Linked DNA regions of Homo sapiens. The protein of the gene in region 1 interacts with the protein of each later gene in a pairwise test. Each region holds a gene or a part of one and is shown in the gene's direction. Other genes may lie near its edges. The genes, in order: FBXO8 and SH3GLB2.

What was found.
Region 2: the proteins of FBXO8 (region 1) and SH3GLB2 interact in a two-hybrid assay, tested with the Homo sapiens proteins (one large-scale study listed by IntAct).

What each region holds. Positions count from the first base shown.
Region 1 is NC_000004.12:174,276,892-174,280,901, reverse strand, and holds part of FBXO8 (F-box only protein 8), read left to right. Parts: intron 1-4,010. UniProt on the Homo sapiens protein: May promote guanine-nucleotide exchange on an ARF. Promotes the activation of ARF through replacement of GDP with GTP.
Region 2 is NC_000009.12:129,014,832-129,018,465, reverse strand, and holds part of SH3GLB2 (endophilin-B2), read left to right. Parts: intron 1-2,606; exon of another isoform or gene 2,607-2,726; intron 2,727-3,561; coding exon 3,562-3,634.

The sequences.
Region 1 (4,010 bases):
ACCTATTAAACAATAATTCCCCTTCCCCATTCCTAGGTCCTAGCAATCACCATTCTACCTTTTGTTTCCAGTTTTGGAAACCGGAAGTGTTTGTATTCATATTACTGGAAAGTGGTAAAGAACCAAAACCTCATATAAATGGGCTTATCCAGTATTTGACTTTTTTTGACTGGCTTATTTAACTTGGCATAATGTCCTCAAGGTTCATCTTTGTTGTAGCATATGCCAGAATTTCTCTTCTTTTTAAGGTCACATAACATTCCCTTATATGTGTCAGCCACATTTTGCTTATCCATTCATCTGTTATTGGACACCTGGGTTGCTTCCATGTTTTAGCTGTTGTGAATAATGCTGCTATGAACATGGGTGAACAAATATCTTTTCCAGACCCTGCTTTGAATTCTTGAGGGTATATACCTGAAAGTGGAATTGCTAGATCACATGGTAATTCTGTTTTTAATTTTTTTTTAGGAAGCTCCATATTGTTTCCGCAGAGGCTGTACCATACGTATTACATTCACATTAACAATACATAAGGGTTCCAGTTTCTCCACATCCTTGCCAAGACTTATTTTTTTTTCGATAGTAACTATCTTAATGGGTATAAGGTGGTCCCTCATTGTACTTTTGATTTGTATTTCCCTAATGATTAGTGATGTTGACTGTATTTTCCTGTGCTTATTGGACGTTAGTGTATTTTCTCTGGAAAAATGTCTTTTCAAGTCCTTTACCCATTTTTGAATCATGTTTTTGTTATTGTTGAGTTAAAGGAGTTATCTGTAAATTATAGATATTAGATTTTATCAGATACATGATTTTCAAATATTTTCTCTCATTCGGTGGGTTGCCTTTTTACTCTGTTGATACTGTCTTTTGATGCACAATTTTTTTTTAATTTTCATAATGTTCAGTTGGTCTGTTTCCTCTTTTGTTGCTTGTGCATTTGGAAATCATTGCCAAATTCAGTGCTGTAAGCCTTTTGCCCTGTTGCCCTGTTTTTTCGTCTAAGAGTATTACAGTTTTATGTCTTAGATTTAAGTCTTTGATCCATTTTGAGTTAATTTTCATAGATAATGTTGGGTAAGGTTCCAACCTCATTCTTTTGAATGTGGATATGATTTCTCAGCACCATTTGTTGAAAAGACTGTCCTTTCCCCCATTAAATGATCTTGACACCTAGTCAAAAATCTTTTGACCATATATGTGATGGTTTATTTCTGGATTCTCTGTTCTATTTCATTGGTCTGTATGTCTCTTTTTATGCCAATACCATACTGTTTTGGTTACTGTAGCTTTGTAATAAGTTTTGAAATCAGAAAGTGTCTTCCAGCTTTGTTGTTCTTTTTCAAGTTTGGTTTGACTATTAGAGGTCCCTTGAGATTCCATGTGGATTTTAGAATTTTTTTCTATTAATGCAAAAAACGTCATTATAATTTTGGCAGGAGCTACATTGAATCTATAGATCACTTTGGGTGGTATTGCCATCTTAATAAGTCTTCCAATCTGTAACCACAGGATGTACTTCCATTTATTTGTCTTTCACTTCTTTCAGTAGTGTTTTGTAGCTTTCATTCCAGAAGCCTTTTACCTACTTGGTTAATTCCTAAGTATTTTATTCTTTTTGATGCTGTTGTAGTTGGTATTATTTTCTTAATTTCCTTTTCAGATTGTTTATTGTAAATGTATAGAAATACGACTTATTTCTGTGTCTTGACTTTATGTCTTTCTACTTTGCTGAATGGATTTATTAGTTGTAAGTTTTTGGTAGAATCTTTAGGGTAACTACAAAGGATTTTACTGCTTTCTTTCCAATTTGGTTGTCTTTTACTTTTTTTCTTGTCTAATTACTCTTGGAACCATGGAATTTTATAGCTAAAAAAGACCTTAGGGAACACCAGTTTCAAAACCCTTATTTTACAGGGGAGGAAACTGAGACCTCAAAATTTTAGTGACTTGGCTGATGCTCCCTACTAGCTAAGGAAGGAGACTGAGTCAAACTCATGTTTTCTTTCCATCAGTCTCTTTTCACTATTAAATGTTTTCTCATTTTTCACCTTCCTCCTATTTCTGGCTGCCTTCAATATTCATTTAATTTAATACCTTGTTTTATTTGTATAAAAGCAACTCAGTGAGAATTATGACTTTTGTTTTGGTTTTTAATTCCATAGCACTCATAGCAATGGCCTTTGTGGTTAGTGGGCAGGTGAGTATGTGTATACTGAGAAGGTGGGTTAGGATATGCTACCATGACTACAGCTGATTACAGCCACTTTAAGTAAATAGTGATACAATTAAGTAAGAACCATATAATTAAAAATAATGCTAGTGAGAAGTATGATACATTTATTTTAAAGTTTCAAATAGTTGGACAATGGAGCATTTCTTGAAAAACAAACCACAGAAATTGAATAAGCCTAAAATTCTTAGATTTTTGGTTGCATTTAAATAACACATCTTAATTTTTACATTTATTTAGTTGCCATTTTGGTAACACTTTTTATAGAATAAAATTAACAGGAAAAAAACCTTCAGGGAACAAAGTAATATTGTAAATCTTTTTGAATTAAAAAAAACCAAAACCTGCAAATGGTATGCCTTTTAGTAACAAAAACTGCTCTTGCAGGACCAGATCTTTAAATTTAATGAGTAGGGGCTTTTTATGTGTTCAATGTACCTTGTGACCTCTTAGTACTTAGCTATTTCCCTTTTCTCCTTAGAAAGACCTCCTTGTGGACTTACCCTTCCTTTATTTCTCTACATTTGTTGCCTTTAAATTTTAGGGATGTGATTGGTTATCAGGGTTTTTTTCTTTTTTAAAAAATTTCTCTACGCAGTCTGTTCTAAACTTCTTTGGTGGTCTATTCTTTTGGAAGTGAAGAAATAAATGCTAGGCTCCTGATTTGATTCAAAATGTCTCAGAAAATATTTTCTCATAGACTCTCCCATGTTCTTATGCTATTGAATAATATCACATGATATCCCTTAAAGATTTTTAAAACCTGAAGTAACCAAAAATAGAGTTGCTACTTTTTACTTAAAAGCACTGAAAATTTATAAAAACATATAAGTGGATTTCCTTATCGTTAGAATTTGTATTTTAGAGATAACTATTGTAGCACACATTTTAAACCTTTATCTGAGACAGGACATTTACTTATAAATTCCACTATTTAGACAACTAAGAAATACTGAAGAAAAATGACCATTTATAATGTGTATTTAAATGAGGCTATTCATATGTCAGTCATTACATACCAATGATTTAACACCGTTTGCTCAGTAAAAGCTTTATGGAATTGGTTTGCTTCAAACAAAAGTACTTAAAGCAGAATGCTTTTTTGAGACATCCGGACTCCTTTCTATTCTTGCCATCTTTCCCTGTGTAGATTTTATATGCCCAAATAGTATATAAACCATTCTTCATTACTTATTGTCTGCACAGCATGTGCCATTTGAGTGCTTAGTGCCATGAAATTATAAGCAGTAGTTACCTTTTTCTTAATAAATACTACTTTATTTTGGTGTTTAACTTGTTACAGAGAGATAGTTTGATTAAAGCTGCTTAATATTTTACAGATAGACTTTGTATTAGATACAAAATATTAATAAAACTTGTATTTTAGTCTTTTTAAGAAATAGTCTACTATTTTGAATAGGAAACAAAACATAGTAGTCAAAAATACCATCTCTTAGAAATGTAACGATCTTCTAGAAGTTAAAAAGTATAGAAAACTATTATTGTTCTTATAAATTTTAATAAATGTGTAATTATTTGTAGTTAATCCATAGTTTGTACTGCTTTTAAGTGGAAGCGCTTTTATGCTGTTGTAACAGACTTGGTTAGACTAAAACTGCTACTTTAAAAAAAATACATCCAAAATTATGTCAGAACAATATAGCTGTTTCAGAAACTACATACTGCTTTACCAATTAAAAGATGCTTTTATATACATTCTCTTAGTTAAGGCTCATAGCCACCCTGTAAAATAGATAGGAATGATTTCCCCCAT
Region 2 (3,634 bases), on another chromosome or scaffold:
CGCTGGGATTACAGGCACCCGCCACCATGCCCAGCTAATTTTTTGTGTTTTTAGTAGAGACGGGGTCTCACCATGTTGGCCAGGCTGGTCTTGAACTCCTGACCTTGTGATCCGCCCGCCTTGGCCTCCCAAAGTGCTGGGATTACAGGCGTGAGCCACTGCGCCCAGCCAATTTAATTTAACTTTTTAAGAAGTTGCCAAACTGTTTTCCAAAGTAGCTGTATGATTTTTTTATTCCTGTCAGTAGTGTGTTGTTTCATTTTCAGATATTTGTGGATTTTCTGGGTTTTCTTCTATTGTTGCTTTTAACTTAATTCCACTGCGATCAGAGAATGTATGAACATGTCGTGCTATGTTAGTATTATTATTATTTTGAGATGGAGTCTCGCTCTGTCGCCCAGGCTGGAGTGCAATGGTGCCATCTGGGCTCACTGCAAGCTCCACTTCCCAGGTTCAAGGGATCCTCCACCTCAGCCTCTCAGCCTTCTGAGTAGCTGAGATTACAGGCACGCACCATCACGCACCTATAATCACACCCAGCTAATTTTTTTTTTTTTTTTTTTTGTTTGAGACGGAATCTCGCTCTGTCGCCCAGGCTGGAGTGCAGTGGCACGATCTCGGCTCACTGCAACCTCCGCCTCTCGTGTTCATGCCATTCTCCTGCCTCAGCCTCCCAAGTAGCTGGGACTACAGGCACCTGCCACCATGCCAGGCTAATTTTTTTTTTTTTCAGTGGAGACGGGATTTCACCGTGTTAGCCAGGATAGTCGATCTCCTGACCTCGTGATCCACCCACCTTGGCCTCCCAGAGTGCTGGGATTACAGGTGTGAGCCATCACACCCGGCGTATTTTTTGTATTTTTAATAGAGATGGGGGTCTCACCATGTTGGCCAGGCTGGTCTCAAACTCCTGATCTCAAGTGATCCGCCTGCCTTAGCCTCCCAAAGTGCTGGGATTACAGGCATGAGCCAGCACACCCAGCCTCATATTTTTATTGTTTTAATCCTTTTAAATTTATTGAGACTTGTTTCATGACCTAGTATATGGTCTATCTGGGGAATGTCCTAGGTTCACTTGAGAAGATGTGATATTATGCTGTTGAGGGTGCAGTGCTGTATAGGTGTCAGCGAGGCCACATCGGTTAATAGTGTTCAAGGCTTGTATGTCCTTGCTGATTTTGTCTTGTCCTATTCATTATCAAGAGTAGACTATTGAGGCTGGGCATGGTGGCTCACACCTGTAATCCCGCCACTTTGGGAGGTCAAAGTGGTTGGATCACCTGAGGTCAGGAGTTCAAGACCAGCCTGGCCAACATGGTGAAATCCTGTCTCTACTAAAAATACAAAAAAATTAGCTGGGCATGCTGGTGCGCGCCTATAGTCCCAGCTACTTGGGAGGCTGAGGCAGGAGAATTGCTGGAACCCGGGAGGCGTAGGTTGCAGCGAGCCAAGAGCGCGCCACTGCACTCCAGCCTGGGAGACAGAGTGAGACCAAAAAAAAAAAAAAAAAAAAAGAGCAGAGTATTCAAGTTTCCAACTATTACTGTTGAATTATCTTATTTCTCTCTTTGTCAGTGTTTGCCTTATGTATTTTGGAACTGTCTTAGGTCTGTATGTTTATATTTGTGCATCTTCCTGATGAATTGACTCTTTCATTATAAAATACTATTCTTTGTCTCTAGTACTATTTTGTGTTAAAGTCTATTTTGTCTGGTAGTAGTATAGCCACGTTAACTCTCTCGTGGTTACTGCATACATGGTGTACTTTTTTCAGCCCATTCATGTCTTTAAATTTAAAGTGTATCTTTGGATTTTTTTTTTTTTCTGTCACCCAGGCGGGAGTGCAGTGGTGCGATCTTGGTTCACTGCGACCTCCACCTCCCGGTTTCAAGCGATTATCCTACCTCAGCCTCCTGAGTAGCTGGGATTACAGGTGCTTGCCACCACGCCTGGCTAATTTTTGTATTTTTAGTAGAGACAGGTTTCACCAAGTTGGTTAGGCTGGTCTTGAACTCCTGACCTCATGATCCGCCTGCCTCAGCCTTCCAAAGTGCTGGGATTACAGGTGTGAGCCACCGCACCCGGCCGTATCTTTTTTTTTTTTTTTTTTTTTTTTTTTTTTTAAAGACAGTCTTGCTCTTGTTGCCCAGGCTGGAGTACAGTGGTGTGACGTTGGCTCACTGCAACCTCTGCCTCCTGGGTTCAAGCAATTCTCCTGCCTCAGTCTCCCAAGTAGCTGGAATTACAGATGCACACCACCACACCCAGCTAATTTTTGTATTTTTAGTAGAGACGAGGTTTTGCCATGTTGTCCAGGTTGGTCTCGAACTCCTGACCTCAAGTGACCCACCCACTTTAGCCTCCCAAAGTGCTAGAATTACAGGCGTGAGCCACTGCGCCCGGCCTTGCCTTCACTTTTGAAGGATTGTTTTGCTATATATAGAATTCCTGGATGAACAATTTTTTCTTTACTTTGAATATATTATCTTACTGCTGTCTGGCTTCTATTGTTTCTAATGAGAAGACAATTCATCTTATTTTAGCTCTCTTGTATGTGATGAATCAAACCATGTTTTTTCTTTTCTTTTCTTTTTTTTAAAGACAGGATCTTGCTGTGTCACCCAGACTGGAGTGCAGTGGTGCAATCATAGCTTACTACTATAGCCTCAAACTCCTGGGTTCAAATGATCCTTCCGCCTGGGCCTCCCAGAGTATTGGGATTACAGGTGTGAGCCAGCGCGCCCAGCCTCTTATTGTTTCTTCACATATTTTTTCTGCCTTATTTTCTCCTCCTCTTCTGGGACTCTTGTTAGTCATATGTTGGTTCACTTGACAGTGCCCCGTAGGTGCTGAGGCGCTGCTCATTTTTCTTATGATTTTCTATTTATTTTTTATAAAGACAAGGTTTTGCCATGTTGCCCGGGCTGGTCTTGAACAGCTGGGTTCAAGCAGTCTGCCCACCTTGGTTTTCCAAAGTGCTGAGATTACAGGTGTGAGCCACAGCATCCAGCCCAGTAGTTTTTCTTGATTAAATGCTTTTCAATTTGTTTTTTGCCTTGGTCAATTTGCAGAGTCCAGAAATGGATGTTTTTGACAATTGTGTCCAGTTTTCTTTCAATTTGTTTTATTTTCAAAGAGATAAGGTCTCCCTATGTTGCCCAGGGTGGTCTGGAACTGCCGAGCTCAAGTGATCCTCCCGTCTCGGCCTCCCAGAGTGCTAGGATTATAGGTGTGAGCCACCGCACCTGGCGTGGTGTCCAGTTTTATTGTTACTTTTTTTGGGAGGGGATTTGTTGAGCTCCTTTCTCTGACATTCTGGAAGTCTAACCCCGATCTTTATAATGGCTGCATTGTGTTCCATATTTTGGCTGTCCCATTGTTTATTTGTTAGTTCCCAGTTGATGGTGTAGTGTAGGTTGCTTCTGCTTTTTCCCAGGCAAAGCATTCTGCACTGAGCACCCCGGCCCTTGCTCTTCAGCAAGCTCTTCCTGAGCCCTCTCCTGTAGATCAGAGTAGCCTGAGCCTGACCTTCTTCCTCACGCTTCAACTCTGTTTTCTCAGGGAAGACACTGATCAAGGTGGCAGAAGCTGAAAAGCAACTGGGAGCCGCGGAGAGGGATTTTATCCACACGGC